7 separate regions of the Homo sapiens genome follow, and all the other regions are linked to region 3. Evidence: fine-mapped expression QTL. A gene starts in region 3. Each other region holds a variant in brackets. All regions are shown on one strand. Distances are from middle to middle.

The links. PIP is the estimated chance that this variant, and not a neighbour inherited with it, causes the effect.
Region 1: its variant is fine-mapped to the expression of DOCK2 in whole blood (TOPMed, PIP 0.95).
Region 2: its variant is fine-mapped to the expression of DOCK2 in fibroblasts (GTEx, PIP above 0.99).
Region 4: its variant is fine-mapped to the expression of DOCK2 in whole blood (TOPMed, PIP above 0.99).
Region 5: its variant is fine-mapped to the expression of DOCK2 in whole blood (TOPMed, PIP above 0.99).
Region 6: its variant is fine-mapped to the expression of DOCK2 in testis (GTEx, PIP above 0.99).
Region 7: its variant is fine-mapped to the expression of DOCK2 in whole blood (TOPMed, PIP 0.98).

The regions. Positions count from the first base shown.
Region 1 is chr5:169,769,873-169,774,338 of GRCh38, reverse strand. The region is part of intron 25 of DOCK2 (dedicator of cytokinesis 2); the gene reads right to left. Among named protein-coding and RNA genes, the nearest start is that of DOCK2, 130 kb to the right of the region's middle. The variant T/C (reference allele first, on the strand shown) is at 2,020.
Region 2 is chr5:169,432,065-169,436,530 of GRCh38, reverse strand. No RefSeq gene overlaps it. Among named protein-coding and RNA genes, the nearest start is that of SLIT3, 130 kb to the right of the region's middle. The variant A/G (reference allele first, on the strand shown) is at 2,456.
Region 3 is chr5:169,634,819-169,639,071 of GRCh38, reverse strand. DOCK2 (dedicator of cytokinesis 2) reads right to left here and starts at 1,797. Exons shown (of 52, transcript NM_004946.3): 1 at 1,703-1,797. The coding sequence starts at 1,745. RefSeq lists an enhancer at 1,000-1,099 and silencers at 1,360-1,419, 1,450-1,929.
Region 4 is chr5:170,075,409-170,079,874 of GRCh38, reverse strand. DOCK2 (dedicator of cytokinesis 2) reads right to left here. Exons shown (of 52, transcript NM_004946.3): 47 at 3,791-3,928; 48 at 2,038-2,165; 49 at 729-900. Among named protein-coding and RNA genes, the nearest start is that of FOXI1, 28 kb to the left of the region's middle. The variant T/C (reference allele first, on the strand shown) is at 2,189.
Region 5 is chr5:170,022,172-170,026,637 of GRCh38, reverse strand. All of the region lies in intron 33 of DOCK2 (dedicator of cytokinesis 2), which reads right to left. Among named protein-coding and RNA genes, the nearest start is that of MIR378E, 4.1 kb to the left of the region's middle. The variant G/A (reference allele first, on the strand shown) is at 2,710.
Region 6 is chr5:169,701,848-169,706,313 of GRCh38, reverse strand. DOCK2 (dedicator of cytokinesis 2) reads right to left here. Exons shown (of 52, transcript NM_004946.3): 14 at 3,887-4,011. Among named protein-coding and RNA genes, the nearest start is that of DOCK2, 67 kb to the right of the region's middle. RefSeq lists enhancers at 2,882-3,291, 3,352-3,401. The variant C/T (reference allele first, on the strand shown) is at 2,238.
Region 7 is chr5:169,933,417-169,937,882 of GRCh38, reverse strand. All of the region lies in intron 27 of DOCK2 (dedicator of cytokinesis 2), which reads right to left. All of the region lies in intron 1 of INSYN2B (inhibitory synaptic factor family member 2B), which reads left to right. Among named protein-coding and RNA genes, the nearest start is that of INSYN2B, 45 kb to the left of the region's middle. The variant C/T (reference allele first, on the strand shown) is at 2,805.

The DNA.
Region 1 (4,466 bases), 140 kb before region 3:
ATTATTTGGGGCCTGGCACAAAATCATGGTTAAATAAGTGGTGGCCATACATTACTTATTACTGTATTTTGTTAATAGTCCCCACAGTACAGTGCTGCCACAGTTTTAGATTTTTAATAAATATTACTTGAACTGAAATGAATCTGCAGCAAATTTTCAATTCAACTGTATTGTCGTCTTCAGGAAATTTCCTTCTATTCTAAGATGTTGGGGAAAAATAACCTAGCAAAATCAAATTTCAACAGATCAACATAAAAGTCTCAGGATGCTTGTATTAGCCCATTTTCACGCTGCTGATAAAGACATACCCAAGACTGGGTAATTTATAAAGAAAAAGAGGTTTAATGGACTCAGTTCTATGTGGCTAGGGAGGTCTCACAATAATGGCAGGGGGCAAAAGGCACGTCTTACATGGCAGCAGGCAAGAGGGAATGAGAAGCAAGCGAACGGGGTTTCCCCTTATAAAACCATCAGATCTCGTGAGACTTATTCACTACCATGAGAACAGTATAAGGGAAACTGCCCCCATGATTCAATTATCTCCCACCAGGTCACACCCACAACACGTGGGAATTATGGGAGCTCCAATTCAAGATGAGATTTGGGTGGGGACACAGCCAAACCATACAAACATTCTAAAACCCCACCTCAGCATAATGGGAATCATTCATGATTGCAATTTCACAGTGAAAACAAAATTTTGGAGTAAATGCATAACCTTATAAAGATTTATATAAATGCCCTCATTATGTATGCTTCCATTAATGCAAAGAATCATTCCAAAACTAGATAAGAATCCCATGGAATATAGTTTGAAAGATATGAGAACAGAGTGATTTTGTTGTTCTCTATTTTTAATGAGGTAAATTACACACACACACACACACACGAAGAGTTTATTGAGTTTATTTACATTGCTATTAAAGAAGTGATCGGGAATTTTTTTCTCCCCTAATTAAATTGTAGTTCATAAGGCCATTGAAAGCTGCTATTCTAAGTATTTTTGGAAGTTTAAGACAGATTTTTTTCCTTGATTGTATGCCAATTTTTTTTAACTTCAGTGCACCCTCACCCCCAACAGACACTTTCATAAATCTCTCTTGGACTTGTTCTGCAGCACATTAAATCACTGTCTTCTCTGATTCTGGATCTGAAGGTTTCTCTCTGAGAATGAAGTCTGCAATCTGTCACATCAGAACAGGAAGAGAGGATTTGAGGGAGAACCCCTTCTCAGATCTCCAGAGTGTGGAAGGGACGTTTTGGTGCTGGCTATGGCTTTGTGACACTGCAGTTGAAACGGGCAAAGTGGGCTCCTCACTTGAAGAACTTTGATGCCTCTAAATGCTCTGATGAGAAAAAACTTGTCCTCAAAATCGATGGTACTTTCTTGAAGAAATGAAACGCTCCAGCACATGAGGCACTGTTAAATGACCAGCTGTGTAACCTCGAATGCATCATGTAATTGCCCTCCATTCACTTAAGGTTCTATAAAATGGCCTCATCCCTTGCCCCCAGCTGAGGCAGGATGCTGAGACGTACTGGGGGAATGCTTCTCAATACTTCTCAACACAGTATTGGGAGAATATTTTTCAATGGGAAGAGGAGGGTTTTTAAGGCACTAAATGGTATTATGTGAAAAAGATTCAGAATTATTATCACTGTGAAGCAGAGGATGACTTTTTTAAAACATAGATTTTCATTGTTGGTGGAACACTACAAAATCTTGTTCAGTGTCATCATTTACAGTTGTTCTACAGAGGTTAAGGGACATGCCCAAGATCTCACAACTGTGCACTAAATGAGATAATATACCTAACTGTTTAGCACAGTGCCAGTGCATAATAAGCAGTCAATAAACGTCAGTTGCTGTTGCAACTGCTGATGTTGTTTTTACTATGATTCAGGTCTCCTCACTCCCAGTTCAGTGCTGTTATTATCAAATACAAAAAGAAACTACAGGAAGGTAGCTTTATGAGCCCAAGCAATTTCTTACCATAAGGAAAATTATTTCTTTCATAA[T/C]TGAGAAAGTGCAAGCCGAGAGAAGGTAAGTGCTATGCCTTGGCACATAATTCCCAGGATGCTAACATCACACTGAAGACTAATTCAGGGGCTTGACTGGAGGAGGAGAGGCTACTCCTTTTTCCTAATCCTTCAGCTCTCAGTGAGCGATAGCACAGAGAACCTGCATGTTGTGGACCAGAGACTGAATCCAGTCTACAGCAACCCTGTCCTCAGCACCGGAGATTGAATCTAGGCTATAGCAACTCAGCCCACAGCCTGTAGGAAAGAGCAATGTCCTGAAAATGCAAAATGACACTGGCATGGAGAAAGGAGAAACTGTCCAGCAGATGAAGCTGGGAAAGAGGTGTGGTCAAATGGGAAAAAAACAAAAATGAAAGACAAAAATCAGATTCCTACTCACACTATATATAAAACATAAACTCTGTAGATAAAGGATTTATGTATCAAAACTAAAATTATAGAATTCTTAGTAAAAATAATGAACATCTTTTAGACTTCAGGACTGAGAAAGATTTCTTAAGGCACACACAAAAATTTGACTAAAAAAACATTGATTTGATTGTGTTAAAATTAAGAACTTTTGCTCATGAAAATGCATCTTAAATAAAAAGACAAGGTATAAACTGGGAGAAGATATTCACAATACATAAAATCAGCAAAAGATAAGTAGAAAGAATATATTAAATATCCTATAGATCAATAAGAAAAATACAACCAATCTGACAGAAAGACAAAAGGCCGGGTGCGGTGGCTCACACCTGTAATCTCAGCACTTTGGGAGGCCGAGGCAGAGGGATCACAAGGTCAGGAGTTCAAGACCAGCCTGACCAACACGGTGAAACCTGTCTCTACTAAAAATACAAAAATTAGCCAGGCGTGGTGGCACACACCTGTAATCCCAGCTACTCAGGAAACTGAGGCAGGAGAATCGCTTGAACCTGGGAGGCAGAGGTTGCAGTGAGCCGAGATCACGCCACTGCACTCCACCAGCCTGGGCGACAGAGCGAGACTCCGTCTCAAAAAGAAAAAAGAAAAACAGTCAAAAGACATGAAAAGACATAGCAAAGAAACAAAACACGAGTGGCAAAGAAAACAGAACAAAGGATTTTCAGCATTACTGGTGATCAAGGAAATGCAACTGAAGACAGTGATGATGTAGTCTAAGCCCATTTTAGTGGCAAAGGTTAAGAAGTAGGGCAATATCCAGCATTAAAGAGACTGTGGCTACACAGGTCCACTTCGGCATTGCTGGTGGGAGTGTAAATTGGTACAACCACCTTTGGAAAAGAGTGTTCACTATCTCCTAAAGATTCTGATCCCTTATGGCCAAGCAAATCTACTAGTAGTTCTATCCCCAAAGGAGACTCTTGAACATTTACAACAAGAGACATGTACAAGAATGTTCTTAGCAGCAGTGCTTTCAATAGAAGAAACACTGACACAACCCAATGCCTGAAATTGAAAGCATGAATGAACAAATTATGGCTTATTCACACAATGGAATTTCCTACCGTCATCAAAACAATGAACTCCAGCAATCAGTAATATGGATGATTCCTAGTTTAATATTAAGTAAAAAAAATAAATTCCTTCAAATTATCAACAGTTCAATACACTTTTCGTAAAGTTCAAATAACTAAAATACTGGGAATATATATAAATGCAATACAACTGCATGAAAAGGAAAGCAGTGGAATGATTAACAAAAGATTCAAGAGGCTGGGTGCAATGGCTCATGCTTGTAATCTCAGTGCTTTGAGAGGCCAAGGCAGAAGGATCACTTAAGCCCAGGGGTCTGAGACCAGCCTGGGGAATATAGGGAGACCCTATCTCTACAAAGTTTTTTTTAAAAAACTTCACCAGACATGGTGGTATGTCCCTGTAGTCCTAACTACTCAGAAGCTGAAGCAGGAGGATTGCTTGAGTCCAGGAGCTCAGGGTTACAATAAGCTATGACTGTGCCACTGTGCTTCAGCCTAGGTGACAAAGCAAGACCCTGTCTCAAAAAAAAAAAAAAAAAAAAAAAGACTCAAGAATGTGGTTACCTTAGGTGGGGAAAGGCAGTCATGTGGTTACACGTAAGTGATTGTTAACTTCCTAGCTTCTGTTTTGTGTGGTGAATGCATGGATGCTTCATTTGTTATTAAAAATAATGAATAGAACATTTAAATAAATAAAAGCATGTCTTGTGTGGATCAATAATAAGATGTATTTTGAATTAATGGCCAGGACTGCTCCAGCTCTGTACAATTGAGGTCTGTTCTTTTCCTTTTCTTAAAGGGACACTGGCCATTGAATAATGCTTTTACTACCGAGGTCCACAGACCAGCCTCTGAGAGCTGGTATCAGTAAGACCAGGCACATAAACGTGTGTATAGACCAGGAACGTAAATAAAACAAAACTTACAACTTCCCTTATCCTTAAGGAGTTCATTCCATCAGTA
Region 2 (4,466 bases), 200 kb after region 3:
TTTAACATATATATATATATATATATATATATATATATATATATATATATATATATAATCATTCACTTAATGTTTGTTTCTCCCATTAGACCATACAGTTTCACCAAGGCAGGGACTTCATGTATTTAATTGCCATTACTTAACCCAATGCCTGTGCCTCACAGAATAGGCACTTAATAATATTTACACAATAAATAAATGAATAAATGGATTAATGAATGGATGGTTGAATGAATAAACTTGATACTCATCCTACTGCCACCACTAGGATAGATCCAGAAATACCAGTATATTTAGTGCAGTGAAAGGATTAACTTACTTCAAAACTAGTTCCCCATGTTAGGAGAAAGAGAAATAAATATCTATTTAACAAGAGAGAGTGTGGTTTCACATGCAGATGTGTAATATTTGTAAATAAAAAGTAGACTGTTTGTGTATAGGAGTAGAAGAGAGAGACTCAGTAGGCTGGAGCTAAGTTAAAGTAAACTATTTATTGCACTAACTAAGCCATAGTGGGGCTGCTGCCAACTGGTCACAACTGCATTTTTTTGGTTTTGTTTTTTTCTTAAAGGCCTCAGTCTCTGTAAGATGCACGTTGAGTAGTTGGAAAAGAAAGGGTCCTAATGCTCGGAATTTTCTTGGGCATCCTCAACTCTTTAAGGCCTTACCTATCAGTGTTTAGGTTGGATTGTTCTCTGCCTGTCCCTGTAACCAGACAGAAAAGAATGAGAAGGGAGATAAGTCAAACGTATGCCTTGTTACTTGAGCAAGCAGCTTGTAGAGTGGGACACACGCACTCCCTGCTTGGATGACTTCTCGATTCTGGGGTTTGGCAAAGCTGTTGCTGAAAACATTGAACAAAATAAACTGCAAAATATAGAAGGAATGCAGAAAAAGTCATGAAAAACAAATTGGTGATTCATACCGATTATGGTCTAATGGCTACAAGATTTTCCCAGCTTTTATTTGAACTTTTTAAAAAAATCAGCTGCAGTAGCGGCTCTGCTGGTGGTTTGACAAAAAGGGGATTTTCTATAAATAATGAGTTTATGTTTGGGGTGTTGATTCTATTTTTAATAAAGCAAATATCATTTTTATTTCTTTGCTCCTCTGTTGAAGACATAAATTCCCAAAGTAATCCCAGCTCTTAGATGGAGAAAGCATAAAGAATACATACAAACAAAGAGATTATTTCAGAGATGGGTCATTTTTTCTCTTTTGGTCATTCATAAAGACCTCAACAATTATATACAGAGTTATAAATGCCTTATGTGGCACCAGGAGGTGCATAGATATGTTCCTTTTCTTGGGCTCAGCAAATCCTTAATTAGAAATGCAGTGAAATTGATTTCTTGAATGAAGATCTCTATGATGATCCAAAGGTTATAATTTATTTCTTTTGAGACTCAAGATTCAAATGAAGAAGTCATCAGGACCACTTTAGAGAAATCCTGACCAGTGGGGTACTTCACAATATAGTATCGGAAGTGTGTACTCCCAGAATTACTGCACAAAGTTCAAATATCCAACCAAGCTCTAGCCGATGAAGGGATATACACACACCTACCCGGTGTAATCAGTAAAAGGAGACCTGTAGTGTGTGGCTTTACTTCCTTCCTCCCACCCCCCCCGTCAACTATCTCCCACTTGTCTGTAGCTTTTGCTATCAGAATCACCATTTATTTCTAATTTCTTTCAGATAATTCAGTGCCTTCTAAATTCTTCTGATTTAACAACCTGGCAAGCTTGTTAAAATTACAAATTCTAGGTCCCAGTCATGGAAACAGATTCCTCAGAGACATCTCTCTTTTTAGTAAGTGCCCCAGGTGATTCTTATGATAAAACAAATTTAGGAAAAATGAGGCAAATGATAATTTTTCAGTTTCACTTTATGATAGCAGAGTACTTTCATGAAACCCTTTCATGAGTTCTTCACAATGGATCTGTGACAAAAATATTATGTATTCCATTTTAGATAAGAGGAAACTGAGCCTCTAGAAGGTAAAGTAGCATGACCAAGGTCACGTGGGGCTGGCCTTTGACTCCAAATCGCTGGCTTCTTGTCCAGGCCACCTCCACCCCCTACCCCGCCAAGCTCTGCTGCCTTCCCAAAGCTTATGGTGATGATGGTGGCATTGGCACAGAGAAAGTCTTGTGGAAGCAAAGAAAGAAGAGAAGAGAATTATGATGGGGGCTTTGAGAACACCTAAAGGATCTCGAAGAAAGACAAATCATTTGATAGTTGAAGATGAGAGAAGAGAGTAGGTGAATAAAGTCATGGAGATCTGAATGGTAAATTGATCACTGATTAATGGAAAGCTATTGAAAATAGTTAGAGCCTAAGTAGCATTTTATAAATCTCTTCTTTAGAACACTAGTTCTACAAGATACTCCATGAAAGAGGGATTCTGCACTGAAATAAATTTAGGAAACTTGGTGAGCTTCCCTCCAGTGA[A/G]TAGATTCCCAAAGCTCATCTGCATATCGAAGTCTCTGAGAAGTCCTGCGGCAAACACATCTAATTAAAAATTTAACAGGAAATATTCCAAACGTATTTGACTGTGGAACTGTCCCTCCATTTTTCTGTAAAATATGCATAAACAGCTATCTGAACACACTTTGGGAAATGCTGGCCTAGGATAGAGATTTAGAGTTGGGAATATATCCATGGGAGTGTTTAATACTATGTGCAATATTATAATTACACCCAAATAAGAAGTTTAATGTCCTACATTTAGGGTCAAGCTTCTACTAATTTCTTTTCCCTACTTAAAACTTGAGATTCTGTTCTTATGTGTTTTTCTATTGTGTCTTTGCTCATTCTGAAGACAGAGAGGGGAGGGGAGAGAAAGACAGAGAGAGCGAGCATAAAATAAGCAACAGAGTGTGCATTGCTCAAAAGTTTGTGGATTCTTTCTTGTTGCTAACACAAAGCAAGTGTATGGCATGAGAATCAAGTGGGAGTGGAGCTAAGCCCTGGAATGTGGAAACCCAGCCTGTCTGGAGCCCCTGGCTCTTTCCAGGCATCTGGATTGGAGGCCCAGCCTGTCTTCCTTTCTGCCCTTGCCAATCTGTCTCTCTGGGGATGGGACGACCTAAAGGTGTGCCTCACTGATGTGCTTCCTGCTCTTCGTGCATTTAACCGTAATTGAGAAGAGCTCTTGCATTCCGTGGACCTCTTGGGCCCCATGGCTGCCCTAATCACGGTCCATGTGGCCTTTAGTCATAGTCAGAAAGAATAGTAGCAGAAGCATAACTGGGCAGTCTTGCAACTGCATCAGTCTTTCCAAGATGTAGCACTACTCTGGCAAGAATGCGGATGCTATCTGCTCATGGTTATGAGTCCCATATGTCAGAGCCTGGTGGCACCCAGAGATGCCTCTCAGCTTGGGTGGGTAATTGGGTGGAGATGGGAGTGAATGTTTAATAGTTCAGATGATGGAATTAGGCTCACAAAGGGGGTGGGTAGGGGGTTAGGGAGGAATTATCCTCTTCCTCCCTTTATTATTTTTAAACTTAGCCTTTAAGCAGAGAGAAAACTTATTTCAGTTGTTTGTGCTCAGATACTTTGGAGATGATTGATTTCTCAACAGTGTGAGCTTGGTCATTATTACTTAATGGGGCCCTGACTTTGACCTGTCCTAGGTCTGATACAGCAAAAGAACAGTTGGAAGGCAATAGGTGAGAAAGTTTGATTTGGAAGAACAGTGTTTAGAAAAGTGAATTTGTATGCATTCTGAAGGGGTGGTGTACCACTCTCTCACTGTCTCCAGTGGTTTGCCGATAAATATTTAATGACCAACTCTCCAAAAATGAAAAAGTGTGTATATATACACATATGCATACACATGTAAGTTTATTATACATTTTACTGATATAAATGATATGTTGCAAGAAATTTATAAATGATACCATATAAAATACTCTTTATTGCAAATCTCATATAGTCAGTTGATTCTTATGGAATTATTTTGATGATTGCTATCAAACTTTTATATCCACAGATGATCTTTGGTTACAACTGATGAACAAGCATAGTTCCACTATGACTGCTGATGCTTTTGCTTATGTTAACAAATAAGATGAAAATGAAACAATAAAGATATATGTCTAGGATTGCCAGATTTAGCAAATAAATATAAAGGAAACTCCACGTTTGAATTGCAGAGAACAACAACTAAATTTTTAGTATGAGTGTGCTCTGAACAATATTTGGGATATACTTATACTAAAAATATTGGTTATTTGAAATTCAGATTTAACTGGGCATCCTGTCTTGTATCCAGCATCGAAGAACTTCACTTGTTCTTCAGTGACATAACTTCTATGCTGAATCACATGATGGTTTCTGAATGCTAGAAGAACATCTCTCAATTTTTTTGTGTTGTTTGGAATGTAACAACTGTACACATAAGACAATTTTAAGTTTTATCTTCATTCATGACATTTTCTTCATCACTCTCTTGAGC
Region 3 (4,253 bases):
TTGGCACTCAAAGCCCTTCACAATCTAGCCATAATCTACCTCTGAAATTTTTTTAACACTAAAAGCAATACTAAAACCAAAACAGACTACTTATTGTTTGACCCACACACTTCAGGGATGCCAGTTCCCTGCCTTTACCCATGATGTTCCCCTTCTAGATGCTTTTCTGGTGCCATGCAAAGGGCCTAGGGTCTGAAGACAATTGAATTTAAGGCCCGCTCCATTGCTTCCAAGTGATGTAAACTTGGTTACTTCACCTGTAAGTTGGGAATAATACACTGCCTCACATGGGGGTTCTGAAGTCAGACAGAGATTGCATGACCTTTGGTCTTGCAAACCATGAAATACTACAGTCTCATAAGGCATGACTGTCCTGAATCTGGCATTAGGGTGCATCTTGGTGCTGGTGTCTCTTGGTTCTGAAGCTGCTAGGTAAGACCCTGGACCTGAATCACTAACTCTTATTGAGCCAGCACACTACTAAATGCTTTCCATGCATAACCCCATTCAATCCTCACAAGAGTCTCATGAGACCTGCATTATTATTACTTCCACTTTATAGACGAGGAAACAGACCCTGATTTGAACTCAGTTCTGACTTCCCAGTCCAAGCCTCTAGCCTTACACATAACTCCTCAAGGGCAGAAGCTGTATCCTTCCTTACTTTGTAACTGCCCCTTGAGATATGAATTATTATTTGTTCTCTGGATGGGGACCATTTATATCAAAATGACCCCACAGTGCCCGGTACCCAGTAATTGAGTGGATAACTGCTGATCTCTCCAGGGCAGTGTTTCCCAAACAGTGGCCTGGGGACCCCCTGCATCAAATCCCTCTGGGTGTTTGGGTCTTCCAATGCCTCACCTGCGAAATATTTATCTCTGAGATGGTGTCTGGTATCCGCCTGTGTAGGAAGCTCCAGAGTGACTTTTTATTTGATATTTAAGTTTAAAAACCACAGTGAGTCCATGGAGATTGCACCACGGATGACACTTAGAGTAGCAGCACCTGAGGCCTCCCTTCCCCCAGCCACCACTTCCGCCCCTGAGCTCCAGGCAGAGGCTTCTGGGAGTTTAGATGGCTGAGGCTGACGAAGCTAGCTTCTTGGTTACCCTAAGACCACCTGGCGGGAGCCTTTTTCCCCAGAGGCTCTGGGGGGCTGAGTAGAGAACCCCACCGTCCAGCCCCATTCCCCCAAGCTTGAGCTGCCCTCTGGATGCCCTGCCAAATCAGGAGTCATCTGACCCAGGAGGAACAGACAGGGGAAGCAGGCAAATGGGTGTCGCTTTGGAGGGGGTGGAAGTATGCATGGTGGGCAGGCCAAGGCTGAGCCAGGGGAGAGTGGAGCTCCCTCTACAAGGCCAAGTCTCCCACGCGGCGAGCTGGGGCACTCCTGGGGACGCCGAGTTTGGCGCGAAGAACTGAGTTGTCAAGCGCAGGTCTTGACCCTATCTCGGAAATGTCTAAGGTTCCCTCAGCAGGCGAGAGGGCGAGGGCTGTGCTTAGCCTGCGGGGTGGGGTCCCGCCGTCCTCTCCCCGAGCCTCGGCTTTCCCGCCCCGAGGCCCCGCCGCAGGCTGCGCCCTCTGACCTGCAGGCAGCGCGCCCTGCCCACCCCGCGCCGCCGGCCCCGCAGCATCCTCCTGCTCGCGGCTCTCCCGCCACCTGTCCCGCTCCCTGCCGCGCCCTGGGGCCCGCACCTACCCACGCCGTGCCGCTCCTTGTCAGCTTTGCGCCAGGGGGCCATGGCTGGGCCGGGGCCTCGCGTCCTCCCGTGGGGAAGCCGTCAGGGGGTGGCTGGGCGCCGCAGGGCCCCACTTCCTTCCTCTTTTCAAACTCCTCTCAGGGCCCGCCCTCTCCTCCCTCGCCGGGGCTCCCCGCTCCCTCCTCCCTCCCGTTGGGCAGGGGCACACTAGAAGGCTGGTGCCCCGTAGGCTAAGACACGCCACCCCACCCCACTTCACGCAAAACTTGGGGACCACTCCCACTTTGTCTCCTCCCCAGGCGAGGGAGCAGAGGCCAGTCCCCACCTGGGGCTCGCCAGACCACCACCGCAAGTGCAGAGAGTTTCCTGATTGCCGTGCCTAGGGACTGAACAAACCTCCTTAACTCCCCTCAGCATGAGCTTTGGTGTCAGATCTCGGTTCGAATCCAGACGGGGACAAATGACTTCATTTTTCTAAGCTTCAGTTTTCTCATCTGTGAAATGGGATACTAATACCTACTTCATATGATTATTGTGAGGGTTAGAGAGACAATGTACACAGCAGGTGACATGGAAGAGTAAATGTTTACCTGGAGGTGGATCCTTTACAGCCTTTTTTTTTTTTTTTTGTGAGACGGAGTTTCGAGTTTCTCTCTTGCTGCCCAGGCTGGAGTGCAACGACGCGATCGCGGCTCACCGCGACCTCCGCCTCCCGAGTTCAAGCGACTCTCCTGTCTCAGCCTTCCCAGTAGCTGGGATTACAGGCATGCACCAGCATGCCCGGCTAACTTTGCATTTTCAGTAGAAACGTGGTTTCTCCATGTTGGTCATGCTGGTCTCGAACTCCCCACCTCAGGTGATCCGCCAGCCTCAGCCTCCCAAAGTGCTGGGATTACAGGTGTGAGCCACCGTGCCTGGCCCATTTACAGCTTTTTATCGTTTTGGTGCTACAAACCCGTTGGAAAATCTGATGTAAGCTCTAGAAGCTCTACTCTGAAAATACGTAAATACACTATTTACCAACATCACTGCAAGGTGAAGGGTGCTGTCACAGCCAGCAACAGTGGGACCCAGGAAAAGAGCCCTAGAGTTAGGCTAATGGAGACATTTCCTCGAAAAATCTCATTTTTGCTCTGAGAACAGATTCTGTCCAAAAAAAAAAAAAAAAAGTCTGATCCACAGTGATAAGGCTGAATTTAAGTTTTGCTGAGTTTTCTTTCTTTATTCATGACTCTCACTACCCCTTTCTGCCTTACACTGGAGAGTCATTAAGATAGATTAGGCAATATCACAGCTGAACTGGAGCAACAAAAAATTATTGATTTTGTTTTATCTGCAGTTATTTTCTTTTCTGTTTTCTAGCAGCACAAATTAGGTAATAATGTCTTATACAGTCAGCAGTGGTATTAGGGTTCCACCAGATGACCAGAGTAGGAGATTTTATATATATGCATACATATATATACATACATACATATATGCATATATATATACACATACATACATACATATATGCATATATATACACATACATATATGCATATATATACACATACATATATGCATATATATATACACATACATATATGCATATATATATATATATATATACACATACATATATATGTATATGAGAGACAGAGAGAGATTGGGGATTGGCTAATGCGATTGTGGGGCTGTCAGGAAGAGCAGTTTGGAAACTCACAGGCAGATGTCCTCAGGAGGAATTTCTTCTTTTTCAAGGAACCTCAGTTCTATTCATAAGGTTTGTCAACTAATTGGATCACACCAACCAAATGTATTGAGGATAATCTCCCTTAATTAAATTCAATGTATGGTAGATGTTAATCACATCTACAAAGTACTTCACAGCAACCCCTGTGAAGATTGTGAAGATTGGTATTTGATTGAATAACTGGGCCATAGCCTTGCCAAGTTGACTCACAAAACTAGCTATCACAACAATGTTATAAATTGGGACTATACAATAGAGGATGCCAAACATTTTCTGTAAAGTCACAGATAGTATTTTAGTCTTTGCAGTCCAGAAAGCAAAATCAAGTATATATGTAGGATGCAGGTACTTATGTAAAGAAAGAAAAAAGGTTCTAAATTTTTTTTATTAATAAAATTCAAAATATCATGTGAATGAGTATTTTTTGTAATACTAGCTTAGTAAGGCAAAAAAAAATACATTTTGGGAATGATATCACATTTCACCTTATTGGAGTTCAAAGTTAATGTGCCTTATCGAAATTGATTCAAATATTCATATGTTAATGCTGATCTGACAGGATATTTACTTTCTATTTCTGAAAAAAATGTTTACCAAATGGGCAATGGTTAAAAGTCCAGAAAAGCTAATAAAATTAACCTTTGATACCACTGATTCAATAACATCACAGATTTAGATATTTTCCACAAAGTACCTGATGGTGAATATTACAATTAATAATCATAAGCTTTAAATATCTTATATTTTCACCCACCTTCTAAATTTGCTCCAAAAGCCTTCTTCTGCTCCACAGATATTTTTTTTACCATGAACAC
Region 4 (4,466 bases), 440 kb before region 3:
CATCCACGCAAGAGTAGCCTGCGAGGCCCACTGGGAAGTTTCTGGAGGGCCCTTTCTTCACTAAGGCATCTTGGTTGGCCCCTTGCTCTTTCATTTGGCACCCCTCCCTTGCCAGGGCAGTTAATCCATCTCCCACTCCCAGGTTCCCAGAACACTTCCAACAAACCTCTTTTCCAGGGGGAAACTAAGATTGAATCCAGGGCTGTCTGAAACCAAGTCTCATTTTTAAATAATCGTTAGTTTACAAGACCAACACTCTCAAAGCCAGGACAGTGAGATTTCATCCCTGTATCCCCACCTGGACTCCTGGCACACAGGAGGGGCTTGCAGGGGTCTGAGACATCAGTGGTTAGAATAGGCCTGGGGCTGGGGGCTATAGAAACACCTAGCTCAGTACCAAGTGGGCTGCTCTCCCTTTTGGTGGGAGAACAGGTGGATTCTCCCCAGCCTGGAAAAGCCCTGTGTGATGGTGGAAAGGATACACACAGGCTCTGAAGTGCAAAGGTCAGGGCTCAACTCCCAGCTCTGTCATGTCCCAGCCACCCCAGCTGCCTGGGCACGAGTAAGCACTTCACCTCTCAGCTCCTCAGGTGCCGCCTCTGCAATACCCATAGCACCGCAGTGGCAGGCTTCAGGAAGCCCATATCTGGAAGCCCTGGGTTTTGTGCCCAGCATGTAGTGGAAATGTGCTAACAGCGCTGGAGAGGCAATCTGCCTCAGCCACTCACCCGCTTCAGGTCCGACTCTGCAGCTGCTTTCTCATCCGCAAAAACTACGCTGCTTCTCTTTGTCCTCTTCTTGGACCTCCGCAGCTTGACCTCAGGCAGGGTGCTCCCCGGGGAGATCGGTTCCTCCTGCTCCACTCTCGGCGTCTTGGGTGATGCTAATTCCAGGTCAAAGCTGAAAGGCCAGAGGGGCAGCAATAGAAACTGCAGTTAGAGCTTCAGTAGAACTGCCTTGCAAGGACCCAGGAAGCTGAAGGGGACCTTTGGGCTGCCTGAGCTGTCACTACAGGGTCTGGAGTAGATCAGCAAATCTGGCAGAGGATTTGGGGAGCAACTTGCTCAATGCACAAACAGTTAAATGTGATGAGTAAAGTTCACTTTATTTTATTCGTGGTAAAATGAAATTGAAAGAAGTGAGCCATAGAAAAGAAACTGGTGGTGAGGAGAGAAGACTGGTTGAAAGCATGAATGTGGATTCAAATCCAGGCACGGCCAGTTCTTAGCTGAATGAATAACTTTGGGTAAATCACTCAACCTCTTCAAGCCATCATTTCCTTTTCAGTAAATGGAGGTCTTCGCAGAGACCTTGCAGAGTGGCCATGAGATGATGTCTGAGGAACCCTTGGCATATTCTTGGCATATGGTAAGTGCTGGGTTGCTCATGTATCTATGATTAGAACAGATGAGTTGGGCAGGGTGAATGGTGCCCCCTAGAATTGTGAATGATGCCCCCTAGAACTGTGAAACAGAAGACGTTTCCATCCTTTTCCCTCTGGGCAAGAGTAACCTCTGAGGCCCGCAGGGAAGTTTCTGGAGGGTCCAACAATGATGGCCAGAGGGCTCCAGGAAGGTGGAAGGGGCAAGGGAGGGAAGACCCCCGACAGAGGGGTGGGTAGGTGGTGCAGGAGGAAGAGCTCTGCAATGGAGACATCCCATCGTGGTTGGGAGGAGCTTCCTTGAAAGGGAACAGATCCCTATGAGAGGTGACAATATTCCAGAAGGATGCAGGCTTGGTGAGGAGCTCTGCCTGGCTGACAGAGATCACTGGACTAGAAGTCTGGGGGCTGCAGGTGACTCCTGCTGGGTCCTCAGGAAAGCTGCCTTGCCTCTCTGAGCCTCTGATAATCCCCTAAAAATGGTACTAACCATGAGCCTCCTGGGGTAGTTGTGAGACTGCAGATGGGAAAAGGCTTTTAAACTGAAAGGAGGAAGGGAAAGGTAGAAGGGATGTTGCCGGAGAAGAGAGAGAAGGAGGGGGGATAGAGCCAGGGAGGCAGGGGTGTGGGGGGCTCCTTGGGGTGCAGGGACTGACCTCTCTGAGGTAGGCTTGCTGGGGGTGCTGCAGTCAGAATTCATGGAAGCCAGAGAGATGATGGACATCTGTCTGTATGAGCGCAGCATAGACCTGGGACGGCCCACTCTCCTGTCGTCAAAGTCAGGCTGTGGTGGGAGAACAGGGTGGT[T/C]AGCAGCTGTAGCCTGGGGAAGGTGGCCCCAGCCTTCCTGTCACCTTCTTCCTCCACCTAGGCAGGGCAGAGTTGTGGGGCTGAGTGGAGCATCAGCACAAAAGTTCCTGGCTGGCTGAGGCTAGGGCGTTCTTGTAGAATGAAGAATGTGGATGACCTTTACTCCTGGTTCCTGGAAGGTAATATCTAAAACTTTGGAATTTCCTATGTGATAGTAGTATCCTTGTTATTATTCATGGTGGCCCCCTTGACCATACTTGATTTTATGCTAATAAGATGGCTCCTGATGGCCAGAAAGACCAGCTCTATGATTATAGGGCTGGGCTGGGGCTTTAAGCCATGTGGTATCAGCTCAACCTCCAGGGAGTGGACAGGCCCAGAGACTGATTTCCATCACATGGCCAATGGTTCAATCTATCATGACTACATAATAAAACCCCAATAAAAACTCTGGACATTAGGCTCTAGTGAACTTCTCTGGCTGGTAATCATACATCAATGTGCCAGAAGGGGGATGCATCTGGAATACGTGGAAACTTCATGTTTGGGACCCTCCTGGACCTCACTCTGTGTCTCTTTACCTGGCTGGTCTTGATTTGTATCATAAACTGAAATCATAAGTATCATGCTTTCCTGAGTTCTGTGAATTATTCTAGTGAATTATGAAACCTGATGGGGTAGTGGGAATCTCCCAGTTTGTAACCAGTTAGGCAGAAGTGTGGGTGGCCTGGGTCCCTGAAGCTTATGGTTGGTGTTTGAAGTGGGAAGTGTCTAAGACTGTGCTTCTAACCTGTGAAATGTGACCTAACTCCAGGGAGTTAGCACCAGAATTGCATTACAGGGACTTCATGTAGGGAGTATTGAAAGTGACAAACTGCCTCATGGAAAAAAATCTTTGAATCAAGAGACCTGAGTGCATCTGTAGGTTCTTCCAGTAATTCACTTTTCTTCTCTGGGTCTCAGTTTTACCATCTGTAAAATGGGAAGGCTGGACCAGATGGTTTTAAAGGAATTGCATGGCCTTGACATTTTATAACACCAGTTAATAAGGAAAAGGATGAAGAAGCACCCCGTAAGCACCAGGCTCATGGCCTCTTTAGGCCAAGGAGCTCAGCGGTCAAAATCACTGGCCTTAAACTAACAGAGCCAGATGCAAATTCTGCCCCACATTCATTTGCCACATAGCCTCTGGCAAGTTGCCTGACCTTCTGAACCTCAGAAGAAATACAAAGGATTAAAAATCTTTCCTGCCTCTCAGGCTTGTGGTGAGGATTAAATGACCTAGTAGATGTCAAGTGCTTGAATCAGGCCTGGCACATAGTAGATGCTGCATCAGTGTAGCTTTCATTATTATTACACAGTCCCTTGAGTAGTTGGTATCTGCACAATCCAGTTGTAACTGGAGTTTGTCTGGGGGTTACTTTTGCTGGACCAAGTTTCCAGGAGGGTTCCCCTGGATGGGATCCAGCAATGCTGGCCATCATTATCTTCTCTTTGGAAGCAGCTTCCTTTGCTGGATCCCCTCCAACTTCAGCCTCCAGCATGCTTCCCTGCCCCACCCTGCACAATCCCACCCCTCCAAGCCATAGGAACCACCCATACCATCTCTCGGACACCGTACTCCTTCTCCACCTTCATTTTCAGGTTCTTGAAACATTCCTCCATCCGGTCATGGAAGGGTCGCAAGTTATCTGACACCCTTTTCTCATGGATCTTAATCCCAGCTCCCAAGAAGGGGATCTGGAGAGAAAGTGGTAAAGAATGAGCCAGAGGCTGACCGGTGGGCCTCAGCCTGGCACCCCGCCCATCAAGGCAGCTGCAGTCAAGTCTGCCTGCTAAGAATTCATCAAGGGCTTCAGGGTCCTCAGAAACCTGCACACACGGTCCCCAGCCATGGGAAATGGGGAAAGTTGCAAACATGAGGTTTGCTCTGGAAAGGAGAGAAAGACCCCCAGCTTCCCTTGCCTCATAGGAGGGCTGGACTCCCCTCTTCCCCATGAAAGGCCACATGGTTGGGAAAATTGCCCCCTTAAAGAATCTACTTGGGGGCAGAGTGTGGGGATCAGAGGAGGGGAATCTCTGTTGCATTGATTTAAAACCTTGCCTAAGATGTTCTTGGCAATACTAAAGTGAAAGGATGAATGTCAGAAGCTGAGAGATAGAGGAAGGCAAGAGCTGAGAGAAAACAGAGGAGGGGGCATAGCCTCATCTTACCACATGGAGCCAATTGCACTTCATACAGCTGCTGAAGAAGGATATGAATGTGCTAATATCATAA
Region 5 (4,466 bases), 390 kb before region 3:
ATGGTTTTTACTATTTTAGTATTATACCCTGAAGAGTCCATCCAAATCATGCAGTCCACCCTTCCCTCATTTTACCATTAAAAAATAAACTGGCACCTGGAGAGGGAAAGGGGAGCTTCGCAAAGGTCACCAAGACCAAAAGAGGACTTGGGGAGTCCTGACCTCTAACTTGACCTCTTTACACCCGGTCTTCATAATACTTCATGAAGTCTGGAGGTCACGGATCACCTTTAAATGTGACAATGCATGAAGAGCAGCCAGCCCTTGCTTGGTACAACCCTCGGTGTCAGTTATTATTACGGATGAAGAAGTAGAGGCTCAGGGAGTTTAAGTGACCTGTCTAAAGTCTTAGATGAATGGCAGAGACCTTTGGCAGGCTCTTTCCTGGGCATAAAGGATAGAGCTCCATGGAGTTGGAATCTTTAGGTGATGAAAAGGCAGGGACCACATTTGCTCTTCCCTCTGGTTCACACATCATCCGTGATGCCATCGTTCCCTCACTTTTGTGCACAAAGGATCTAAGGGAGGGACCAAAAGCTTGTGCTGATACAGCACAAATGCCAAAGAATTTCCGGTGAGTTGCCTCAGTTGGGGAAGACTTATTGAAGGAGATATACCGGGCCTGGAAAAATGGGTAGGACTGTGATAAATGTGAAAAGGAAGGCATTCCAGATGGGGGAAACGGTGTGAGCAAAGCTGTCGAGGTGGGAACGTGGAGAAAAATGAAGACAGCAGTTCAGCTTGAGCAGAGAAGAATGGATGGACGGACAAATGGAAGGAAGGAAGGAAAGAAGGAAGGAAGGAAGGAAGGAAGGAAGGAAGGAAGGAAGGAAGGAAGGAAGGAAGGGAGGGAAGGAGGGAGGGAGGGAGGGAGGGAACAGACACCTAGATGAGACCCAGTGTGGCAAGAGTCTAGACTGCCAGTCTGCAAATGAATCACGTCCCTTCTATGGTGCATCCTGTCAAGCATTATGTCTGTGTTGAATATTATCCAATGTCAAGGGTTGGGGACTATCATGCTTAGAGATGTCTTCTCTGCCAAGCCTAGAGCAGGAAGAAATACAGCTAAGGGGCTATACAATGAGTCTGCTGTGCGGCTGTCTGGCTTTAAATCCCTCACCGCTTCCCTCTGCCATCTTGGGAAAGCTGGTAGGTCTTTCTAATCCTCAGGGTCAGGATTTAGATCAGGGACTGGCAAACATTTCCTGTAAAGGGCCAGACAGTAAATAATTTAGGCTTTGGAGGCCAGATGGTCTCTGTGACAACTACTGAACTCTGCTGCTGTAGCACAAAACCAGCCCTAGACAACACATACACAAATTGGCATGGCTGTAGTCCAATAAAAGTTTATTTACAAAAGCAGGTGGAAGGATGGATTTGGTCTGTGGGCCAGAGTTTGTCTACCCCTTATCAATACAATGGGCATAACAGTAGTACCTACAGTGTGGAGTAGCTATAGGGCACAGAGATTTTATATGTAAAGCACTAGCAAAGTGCCTAACATTAAGTGTGTGCTGTGTCCCTCGACTTGTCATCACCACTAATGTTATTGTTATTACTGCCGAATGTTACTAGAAAGCAGCGCAGGGGGAGAAAAGTGCATTTTTTCTTGTCTGAGTGGTTCACTGGGAAATGCTGGCATGATTCTTCCTGGTGAGCTGAACTTTTCTTTGGAGCACAGAAGTGGTTGAGGTAAATAAGCACTTGTCTCAGGATCACAAAAGAGCCTGCCAGGAGGGAAATTACAGGGTTCCAGGGAGTGTGTGAGACAAATGATACCATACCACCATGCCTGAGCCCTTGGGGTGAGCTGGAGGGGTAAGGTCTCAGTCAGGCATATCCCAGGGTCAGTACTGTGCTCAGAAATGGCTATGCTCACAGTCTGTGGCATTGAATAGACTTGGTTTGAGTCTTGCTTTGACTTTTTTCCCAGCCCTGTGACCTTAGCCAAGTTAATAAACATTTCTAAGGCTTAATGTGCTCATCTATTAAATGGAGATTTGAAATAGCATCTCCTTCATAGTGGTACTGTAACAAATTAAAGGGCAAACACACGTATAAGGCACTTGGCACATAGTAAGTGCTCAATAATTGTTAGCAAAGCTCATCATGCTATTGTCATTGTCATCATCATAGGCATCATACTCTCATTTAATCTTTACAACAGCCAAGGGAGAAGAATGTCATCATCCCCATGTTACAAATGAGGAGGCTGAGGCAACGTAGGACCTTGGGTGACAGAGTGTAAGACTCTGTCTCAAAAAAAAAAAAAAAAAAAAAGGCTCTCCCAAACATACACTCCATCATGATGCTGCAACAGTCCTTACCCCCAACACTGTCACCATCCAGAGTTGAGGATGTAGCTCTGGCTTCTCCAAATTACTTCCATTTTCATCCACAGCTACATGACTGCATCACATCATTGACTCCTTACCCCACTGCTGCGAGGTGGATGTTTGCTAATGAGTATCCACAGATTTGTATTGAGCCACTACAGAAGTCAGATTCTACAGAGGCCCAATACAAATCTTGAGAAGCTCTAATCGAGAAAGGAGGAGTGGACTCCAGGAGCCCAAACCTTCTGCCTGGGCCTCCCTCTTCCAGGAGACTGGCCTGATATGGGCCTCGTGTTTGCTTCATGCCTTCCCTGCATTGCTTCTCTTGCCTCTCCTGGCTGCTTTAGAATATCTTGGCTATTTTTATCATCTT[G/A]TTCTCCTAGAATGTTTTCTGATTGGAGTCCAGCCCTGTAGAAGTATGAGATTTGGGGAGTGATTGCTCTTCCTCACACGTCTGGTGCTGACATTGACATGGGAAGAGCAGAGATGTTATTAGAGGCCTGGATGTCAGGAAGATGACAAGGATGACATCAACACCAGTAAGTCTGCCTTTGACCTCCTCTGTTATGAAATGCCAGTTATCCTGGGTGGAAAGAAGTAGAGTTGGGAGGAACCTGGAAAAGAGAATGTCACGTGAGAAGGGGTGTCTGGAAGTCAGCGCGGCTTTCTAATTTTGAGTTGTCTCTAATCGTTCCAATTCATCCCCCAAAAGAGCTTGGGATGGGAACCTCTAATGGCAGTTGGATACCCACTTTACAGATGAAGAAGCTGAGGCTGAGAGAGGTTAAATAACTTACCCACATTGATTCAGCTTATAAGAAGTAGGTCTATCTGAATCCAAACAACAGTACCGAGAACGCAGCAAGCACTCAGTACAGATTTATTGAATTGATGTAATCTTTTCCACATTATGTTCTAAACAATTTAAATCACCAGCTTACTCCACGCCAAGATGCAGTCTCAGTGGAATCTGCTAACATGGCTATCTCCGTCTATTAATTAATTCAATGAGCAAAGATTGAGCTCCTACGGTGTTCAGGCACTGTTCTAGGTGCTGCTGTCAGATGCTATCCCCTCTTCTTTCTCTGAGAGAAGAATTCTCTCTGGGATCTCCTGCCTGCTGAGGGCTCAGATCCCCATGCTGACTGGTACACAGTCCTGTTCTACAATCTGCATCTAGCCAACCAGTCTCCAAGGTCTCTATACCCCAGGACTCCCACTCATTCCCACCAATAGCATCCAGAACACCTACATCCCCTCTTTCCACAAAGAATTGGCCAGCAAGACAGCTGGTGTACTCGGGGCAAGGGGATTACTCAAGCAGTCATTAGCAACCCCCATTATTCTAGTTTATAAAAACATTTGCTGGAATGCACCTCCCTGTGCCGATGTGGTTCCCCTGAATGACATGGGATGGGGGTCTAAATGCCTCCATCCATTCATTCTGGGAACACTGACATTGTGCCCACCACGTGCATCTCAGGCACTTGACAGGGACTGGGAGTTCAGGACTGAGAGACCAGCTTTGGCCCTCAAGAGCTCACAGTCTGCTGTGGAACACAGACCTATGAGCAGGTAATTGTGCTGTGTGGGACAAGTGTGATGACCGCTCAATCCAGGCAGGATAGGATACGTTTCATTCTGACTAGCATGTGTCCTGGCCAAGCCGGCCACAATGGGGTCCACCTAAGGCCCTCTTGCTGAAACTGTCCTTCCACAACCCCACCAAGGGAATCATGTGGTGTACCAGGGGTGGGACATCCAGTCCTAGACAATGGACAGAGACCCCCGAGATGGTCTGGGATGAAGTGCTACACTCATGAGGGATAAATGTCATCAGTCAAACCCATCAGCTGTCTATGAAATTTGGGTGAGAGGTGAGACAGGGAAATCTGGCACAGAGCTTATAAAAGAAACCCAGAGCAGAGAAAGAGATTGCCCTGGGGTTGCCTCTTGTTCAGCCCCCAGAACCGTGAGCCACTGAGAGTCTAACACCTTCCTGTCCTAGTTCCAGCCTATGTATACTTGGCTTGAGAAAATCTTTGTCTCTTGTACCCAGATGAACCACTGCCCCAGGAGGCAGGAAAGCCTTTCCCAAAAAGTAAAGCCTCAGCTGAAGGGTGTCTAGGA
Region 6 (4,466 bases), 67 kb before region 3:
TATGGGCTTAGAGTTTCTGTAGTTACAGTAAATCCCATGTAGCTTACCAAATCAGAAACTACACATATATCTCTGGTGAAAGTAAAACTGCCGCATGGCAGGCAACTGGATCTCACAAAACTGTACTGATGATGAAAATTTTTGATTTCCTAAGGCTGGAGAAAAAAGTCTCAGTACCAGTCAGAGAAAAGCCAAAGATAGTGCCATAGGCCTCAGCACTTCAGAGAAATAACAGTGTTGGGAAGTGCACTGAGAGAGCATTGTGACCAGGGACTGAGCCCAGTTCTAGGGAAAATATACACTGGTATATATCTCAAATAACACTGTTCCATAATTTTCTACATTGCCTATCCCCATGGCCCCCAATTAACAGTGAGAGCCCCTCATAGGTGTGGGAGACTTCAGGTCAGTTGAAGAAAATCTGAGTATGGATCAGGAAGCCTGGAGGCTTTCATGTTGGCTTGGCCTTAGAAGAAACATCTCTGCAGGAAGAAAAACCAGGCTCCTAACACATGTCCTGTTTACTTGGTAGGAATCAGGTGAGAAAGAGATGACACCAGGGATGTGAACACACTTTAGGAAAGACAGTGTTCTCCTCTCACAAGACCACATCATGGGATGTCGATTAGCATGCCTAAGGTAGGAATCAGGCTGGGAGCTCAGTATACCCTTCTAATAATAATAGCTAAATTTAATGCACACCTATTATGTAGATTACCTCATCTGATATTCACAAGAGCAAAGTGCCATTGCTGGTCCTATTTTCAGACAGAGACTCTCAGGCTTAGAGAGGTTATGTAACTGCCTCAACATCCTCTTACTAATTCAGGCAGAGCTGGGCTTTGCACCTGGCTGTCTGGCCCCAGGGGTCATGGTCTTAACCACTATCCCATACTTCCCCTATCCCCTGCCTCCACCGCCTCAAGTTGGGTGGTCTCAGAAAAACAGAGGTTTCTTGGCCCAGCATCTAAGCCTTTCTCTTTCACCAGAATTTGCTTCTGGCTGGATTGCCTGTTTGACTCCCTCAGGTCCCTCAGAGGGCTTCACCCTGCACTTGGTCCTCTTCTCTGAATGTGACCCTCCTTCCTGTTGCTGGGTACTTACTGCAATACCAGGTGCCTTATACCTATGGCGTGTTTTGTCTGTTTGTTGAGAAAGGGTCTCACTTTGTCGGCCAGGCTGGAGTGGCTGGGGTGCGATCTCAGCTCACTGCAACCTCTGCCTCCAGGGTTCAAGCAATTCTCGTGCCTCAGCCTCCTGAGTAGCTGGGATTACAGGTGCTTGCCACCACACTCAGCTAATTTTTGTATTTTCAGTAAAGACAAGGTTTCACCTTCTTGGCCAGGCTGGTCTCAAACTCCTGACCTCAAGTGATCTGCCCCCCTTGGCCTCCCAAAGTGCTGGGATTACAGGTGTGAGCCGCTGTGCCCAGCAGCATGTTTATTTTTAAAATTTTTTAATTTTAAAATTTTTAATTTTTGTGGGCACATAGTGTGTGCATACACATACACACACACACACACACACACACACACACACACACACACACACACATATATATGGAGTAAATGAGATGTTTTGATAGAGGCATACAATGCATAAAAATCACATCATGGAAGATGGGGATCCATGTCCTCAAGCATTTATCCTTTGTGTTATAAACAATCCAATCATACTCTTTTAGTTGTTTTAATACCTACTCTTTTGTTTAACCTGCAACCCCACGAGAAGAGGTTATTATTTCTTTTTACACATGAATAAACTTGCCTAAGATCACACAGCTAATATGAGGGGAGGCTGGAATTTGAACCCTGTCTGCCTGACCCCAGAGCCCACCCCATTAGCTTCTCTGCTATGACCCCTCCTGAGCAAGGCCCTTGACACCCCAAGGTGAGCCATGAGCAGGCCTAACCTCCTCTGCCCTCTGGTCCTGCTCTGCCAAAGACAGTGTGCATGCACCTAGAGCAGGAGGAGAAATCAATATTTCTAAAGGGGACCATTTCCACAGGAGCCCACCAATATCAAACAGAAGTGTTTGAATGTACTGACTGACACTTAATTAGGCAGTAATATTTATTTCTACAAATAGAGAAAGAAAAGCCTCCCACAGGCTTCCTAAGCAATTTTCAATAGTCAGTCAACTGAACTCCCCCAGAATTTCCCTAATAGAGGAAACCACAAATCATCACCATGCCCCACAGTTCCCTTTCCATGTCAGCCCCCAGAATACCTGCTTA[C/T]CTACTCATCTTGGATAAGTGCATCTGCTCAGCCTGCTCGGTAGTGACTTGAAAGGGTGACAAAAGTGGAAGAAAGAGTGGCTCAGACAGGAGATAAGATGGCTGCTTGCCTGTTAACTGTGTCTTTTAATTTGTCCTTTGGCAACATGGAAGGTAAGCGTATCAATGTTTCAAAAATGAAGCTGAGGTTAAAAAGTTCTCTACCAGGGAAGTTGGATAAAAGTAACTTCAAAGCAATGGTCTCTACATTTGGGAATTGCAATTTCCCTTTCAGATAAAAACCCTCCGCTCCTTTATGTTCCTTTGAGTCAAGTATTTCTCACTTATTTTATTTTTTGGAAAAAGTTTCAGACTGCAACAAAAGGAGGATGCGTTCAATGCTTAGATTTTGTTCAAATAGATACTAATTAACATGACCAGTCTTTATGAACAAAAAGGCAATTGTGAGGATTTCTTTACATTTAAAAAACGATTATGAATCTTCCCAAATTTGCCAGCAGTGGTTATTAGCCTCATTTTTTAAAATGAGAAATAAATTGGAGAATTTTGCTACATGTACGGGCATTGTAGTGAAGTGTCTCAGAGGGCCTGGAACCAGTCAAACCCCATCTCTGACATATGCTAACATTATGGCTTTGGGCGAGTTACTGTAAGTGACACGGGTTTTGTTTCCCTATCTGTAAAATGGGGCATAATAAAGGAAATGTGTCATACTATCACACAGCCTGACACATGGTAATTCCCCTGTGAATGTTAGTTATTCTTGGGTACAAAGTATCAGTCTGATCTCCAGGCCCCAAGGACAAAAATGATGCCTCTTCCATCTTCACATCCCCTCTCTGATGAACACACCCGCCCTGCTTGGCTATTTGATCACTCACAGTGGCCTAAGAGGAATATTCGCCCATGCTAAAATTTCTCCTGAGAGCTGATTTTCTTTTCAGCTAACTACTCTGTCAGGAGGAACTGAGAAACAAAACCCTCCTACACACTGGACACAGCACTGACAACCTTAAAGAAAATACAAGCAAATAAATATAAACACACATGACAAATATTGGACAGGACATATGCTGTATAAATATAGCAATGCGCTTTGCATTCCTGAATACACCCTGCTAGCTCTCTGGAGACCAATTTACGAATAAGGCTTTCCACCAGCATTTCTGGCTGAGCGCTGGGGAGTTAGATTAAGTGTTGAGAATGCCTGCTTTAAGCACATCCTGAGCCTCCACACCAGCCCAAGGCACTGTATTGATCCTCTTTCTTACCATGGACTTTGCCTGAATAAACCAGCTCAGGTTTCAGTGAGAACATTTTAACTGCAGAAAGCTAACCTATAAGCTGAGACCAAGCAAAAGTAAATAAATAAATAAATACATACATACATACATACATACATACAAGAAGAAGTTGTGAAAGGAAAGGAACAGACATTGAAAAACTGCTTTGGTGTAAGGAAATATCACAAGGTCTTATTATGGAACACTGCACTAACCAAGCTCAAAAGGTGTTGAACACATTATTCAACACCATCCCAAAGGCACCTGGCATTTAGACAACAGAATCAGGGAGAGGAAAAGTACGTCTTTACAAGCAGAGGCCCCCAAGGCGGACCCTGTCACCCAGAGCAGCAGTGAGTCCCTTACAGGCAGCGTTTTGCCATCCTCCGCGCACACACACATGATGACTTCCACATTCCTCTGTGTGGTCTTGTTGTACTTGTCAAAGTCACCTTGTAAGAGAGTAATGTAGATGTCGTTCCTGACATCCCCTGAGGCAGAGGGAGAGAGAGACAAGAGTTAGTGTGGATTACAGCAGGAGAGACGCTGACTAACTAGAGGGGATGGAGGGTGAGAAGAAGCTCTCCCACCTGGATTGGTATTAATTAAAATCAGAATTGCTTAGAGAAAGCATTTTTCCCTCATCAGGGAGGCTGGAGAAGTAGGTAACACGGGGATGAAGGGATGCTAGGAAATCAGTTGCAAAAAGGGAAGTAGGGACACTCAAAATTGGCCATGTTTTTCTCGACATTAAAAGTCATTTAATTTTCATCCTCTAGTGACACCTTCTGGGAAGGCAAAGGAAAGCTCCAATTGAATTGATCCTGTCCCATGAAAACAACCAAACATATACATCTGCCGATATTTCACTGTGTAGGAGCAGAATAGAGCAACTTTCCATGTGTCCTAGGGACACAGGGTTAGGAGGGAGCTGCAGAGGATCTTC
Region 7 (4,466 bases), 300 kb before region 3:
AGGGACCCACCACTCACGTGAGAGAAGAAATATTTGATTTCAGTGTTGTCAGTGACCAATAGAATGATCCATGCCTTTAGGTCTAGGGTCCAGGGACAATGAGGACCCTCAGGACCTTCCCTTGAGCAGCTTGCCAGCCAGGAGAGCAGTTACTACTGGGCAAAAGTGTTACTAAATGAGAATTTAGAAGAATAGACAAAATAATAATAAATACTCTTTATCCATTTGTAAAATTAAAATAATTATATCTCCCTCATAGGTTGTTATGGGATTAAACAAGTTAATATAGATAAAGAACTGAGCACAGAGTCTAGAACATATAAGTACTCAATATATGTTCCTATTATCATTGCTTTTACTAATCTCATTAGCCTTTTATTGAACACTTACTATGTGCCAAGCACAGATAAGCGTGCAGCATCTTACCTAATTCTCACAGTCTCAGGAGATAGTCTTTGTATCATCCCTATTTTACACTTAAGAAAATCATAGGCCAGGGATGTGGGAAGTATCTATTCAAGGTTGCACACCCAGGGAACCATAGATCCAAGGTGCAGCCCAAGTCTACGGGTTGGCAAACTTGTTCTCAAAGGGTCAGATTTTTTTCTTAAAGGGCCAGATAATAAATGTTGAAGGCTTTTCAAGCCATAAGGTCTCTGTCACCACTACTCAACTCCTCAAATTTTTGATGGTGGTTTGAAAGCAGCTCTGGACAACTATACAAAGAAATAAGCATATCTGTGCCGCAGTAAAACTTTATTTACAAAAACAGGCAGCTGGCTGGAAGTTTGTTGAAGGAGTCACCTACCAATTACTCTGCCCAGAAACTGGTCAGCCCCTCCCTCCTCACCAAATACCCAGCCTCTCCTCCACAGTGTTCAAGCTACCATTTTTGCAAAGCAGTGGCAGGAGAGGTGGTGGGAAACCCAGTCTGGGATTGAGAAGCTTTGTTTGATTTTTCTGTAAGTATGTTTGAATTATTAAGTGTCTGGCTCATTAAGTGAAGGGTGTCGTTATAATTCTATCACAAGAGACAAAATTGTTATTTAAATTGAGTTTTGTCAATTTAGCTAATTTACTAAGTGGGCATTGCCACGTCTTAATTAGTATCCTCTGATCAGAGATTATTCATGAGGACAGTGCAGTGTTGGTGCACCAAATCTATATAGGCTGGAGCGCGCCCCCCAGGAGGAGGTTTTTGCTCTCTGGGGAATGCTAGATTCTGTAATGGATCAGTAGCCACACTGGTTTCTCCAGTGAAATCCAAGGATCTGCTAATTCATAAAAAAAAAAAAAAAAAAAAAGGAGTCTGAGAATCACCAATGATTCTCCCCAACATGCCCATCGAAATACACACAGGATAGAATAGATGTGTTTATTCATTTTGATTATCTTATAATCAGCTGTTTCCCTCCCTGGGTACTGGATCTGCTATTGACTAGCTGTGATACCTTTGAGAATCACTTCACTTCCTGGATCCTCAGTTTCCTCTCCTAAAATGGCCAGATAAGTTCAGAGTTTGAGGATGAGGAATAACCGTCCTAAAATGTTTTGCCCTAGGAACCCACTGCCCTTGCTGCAGCCTAGCCCCATCTCTGTCGTTGAAGCACGGACATTATCTTGTCTGTAGAACCATGCACGGAAGTGTTATCACGCTTGGGCCTCAAAAATGCCTCTGCTTCTATGGATTAATTCTGTGTGTAGTCAAAATGCAAATATTGTTGATTTTGTTCTCCATCTCCTCAAGGGCAGACAGGTGGTTTTGTTACATTTTCTAACAAGTGGGGAACGATTTTGTTTTTATTGGCAAAAATACTTAGGAAACAGAAACAGACTTCTTTACAGTTGTTCCCCCCACCGCCATGCCACCTCCCCAAGAAAAAATTTATGTTAACTTCCTAAAGGCTGTGTACCTGGCCTTTTATTAGTTGTGGTTAGAGACAGGAAACTGTAACCATTTGAGGATGTAGCTGATAGAGAATGTTGTTTTCTTCCTGCTCTGTGGAGTAAATGCCATTCCTAATTATTATTTATCTGTAGGACTTTTGAGTTATAATGTCTCGTTCTACCAGAAATGTCTGATTTTTTATATTTTTACACAACGCGTTTTTTCTCCTATGAAGTCAGTGTACTGTGCACAACTTGACAAGTTTTAAGACATAATGTAGCAGTTGAAGCTCTAAGCAAAATAGCACAGTGATGAAGGATGACTTCACCGCATCGGCAACGTTCATCACCACCTCACTATGAAGACCTTCATTTCACCGCAAAGTAGGTAGGACGTGATAAAACTCCGACTTCTCCACCAGCATGTCTTGGTGCTGGCTTCTTAATAGTCTCCCAAACCTTGACCTGATATCCGAATGGCTGCTGTCCAGAGGTGGCAGTGGTTTTAGAAATCAGCTCTCAACCCGAACTCCACCATTAAGTTGACAGTTCAGCATGTCAGATTTTGGTGACTTAGCACACAAGAAGAGAAAGAAAGCTAGGGCATTCTAGGCCTCTGCGATGGTTCCATGGGAGCAGAAGGGCGCAAGTGAGATTCAGTTTCCCTACACAGGCATGGGAGATGAGACCTTTTTTTGGTCGAGTTAAAGCTTTGATCTGATAATGTACAAAAGAGAGGATCTTGGCAGTGACTCACAGCAAACAGTGTACAAATTTACTCAGAAACGGCAATGGCATGCTGCTCTGCAGACTGTCTTTATACACAGCTGCTCCCTCCAATTAAGAGGGCTCTCCACAGTGCTGGCCAGTCCTTCTATCCAAATCTTGCCACGCTGTCTTCACTGCTGCTTAGCTTC[C/T]TGCCCACGTGGACTCCCTCTCCAGTGCTCTTTCTATTAATTTTCCCGCCTTCCCAAGAATCTTAGATGGCTGCAGTCAGTATGTTGGCTGCTAACGTTTGCATTCTAGCTGATATTGTATCCAGCATAGCACAATCACTTTCTATACTACTTTCTCAGGTCATTGTTGTTTAATCAGAATAAATATCAAGTGTAAGGTGGTTAAAGTTGTTTTGGCAATGTATAATGCTTTATTTACCTATTTGCAGATGACACTACAATCAATTTATCATACAGATAATAATGAAACTAACAATAAGGATTGCATGATAACTAGCATTTACTGAGCACTGATCCCGTGAGCAGCCCTGTGCTAACCCTTGGCAGATACTATCACATTTAATACTCCGTAGCACCCAATCGGTTCAGTCCTATCATCAGCTGCATCCTAGAAAGGAAGGAGACAAGACTTAGCAAGGGGAAGTATCTTGCCCAAGGTCAGACAGCCTGGAAGCAAAGAGCAGGATTTAGATCCAGGTGTGTGTGAATGTAGCGCATACAATTAGGCTGGAAGAAATGTGGGTGCTGATAAGCATTCCATCTCCTAGCATATGTGCATGCACCTCTTACTACAAAACCAGTGTGGTGTGGGCACTGGGGACACCCTGCCCTTGAGGGTTTGTGATTCACGGGCATGCGGATAGGTAAATTAGTGGGAACAACACAGGGTGGTATTGGCTATGATCCACTCCGGGGACAACTACCAAAGTACCTAGGAGGGGAATGCAAATCAGCCCAGGAAATCAGAGAAGTCTTCCCGGGTAAATACAGTAGAAGGGACTCTTCTTGTTCCAAGGAATTCACAATCCAAGTCCACTGTTATTACGTGAACAATAAAGCAAGTGGCATAAGCCCCGCCCCAGTACCTGATTACTGCCAACCCCTAATTGGGAACACTCAACCCCCTGCCTCAGCAGTTCTCAACCCCACAGCTACCTCCCACAGACATGAGGTGTGCTACAAATGTGACCACTGATCAATGAGCAGTATGGATCAAGGGAAGATTGGCATGCTCTGCCCTAAATGCTTAAACCTAACATTAGCAATAGATGCCGGTCCTGCTGAGTGAAGAAAAAGACAAAAAGGCACATGAGGTTCCTAAGTCAGTAGCATTAATGGCGACACCAGTAGTTTGTTCAGGAAGTGCTGCATGTCCCCTGGAGCACGCTCTGTTCATTTCTCTCTGGTTACAGTAAGTCTGGACGCCAGCCACCCCTCATGCATTCCCCACCTCATAAATCTGCATGTTGAAAGAAATCCAAGAAGGGAAGGCAAAGGTTGGCAGCTGCCTGGAAGTCTGAGAAGTGGGTGTCTGACCCCAAAACTGCTTGAAGGCTGATACACACAGGTACTCTCTTAGTGCGGCCAGTAAGGTCCCCTGACTTCTACAGCTGTTACTCCTCACAAGGAAGGAGGCCGAACGAAGGAAGAAAAGGGAAGGAGCTGGACTAAAGATTCATTGTTTCTGAAAAGTGGGCAAATAAGCAGCCTCCTTCCCCAGGTGAATGCAGTATCAATATTAACAACAAAACACAGTTCTGAATTTATTTATGCAGACTCTTGATGCTCAGGATAATGACTGATTTACCAGAAAGAGCTCTTCTATAGCAGCCACTCTCAATC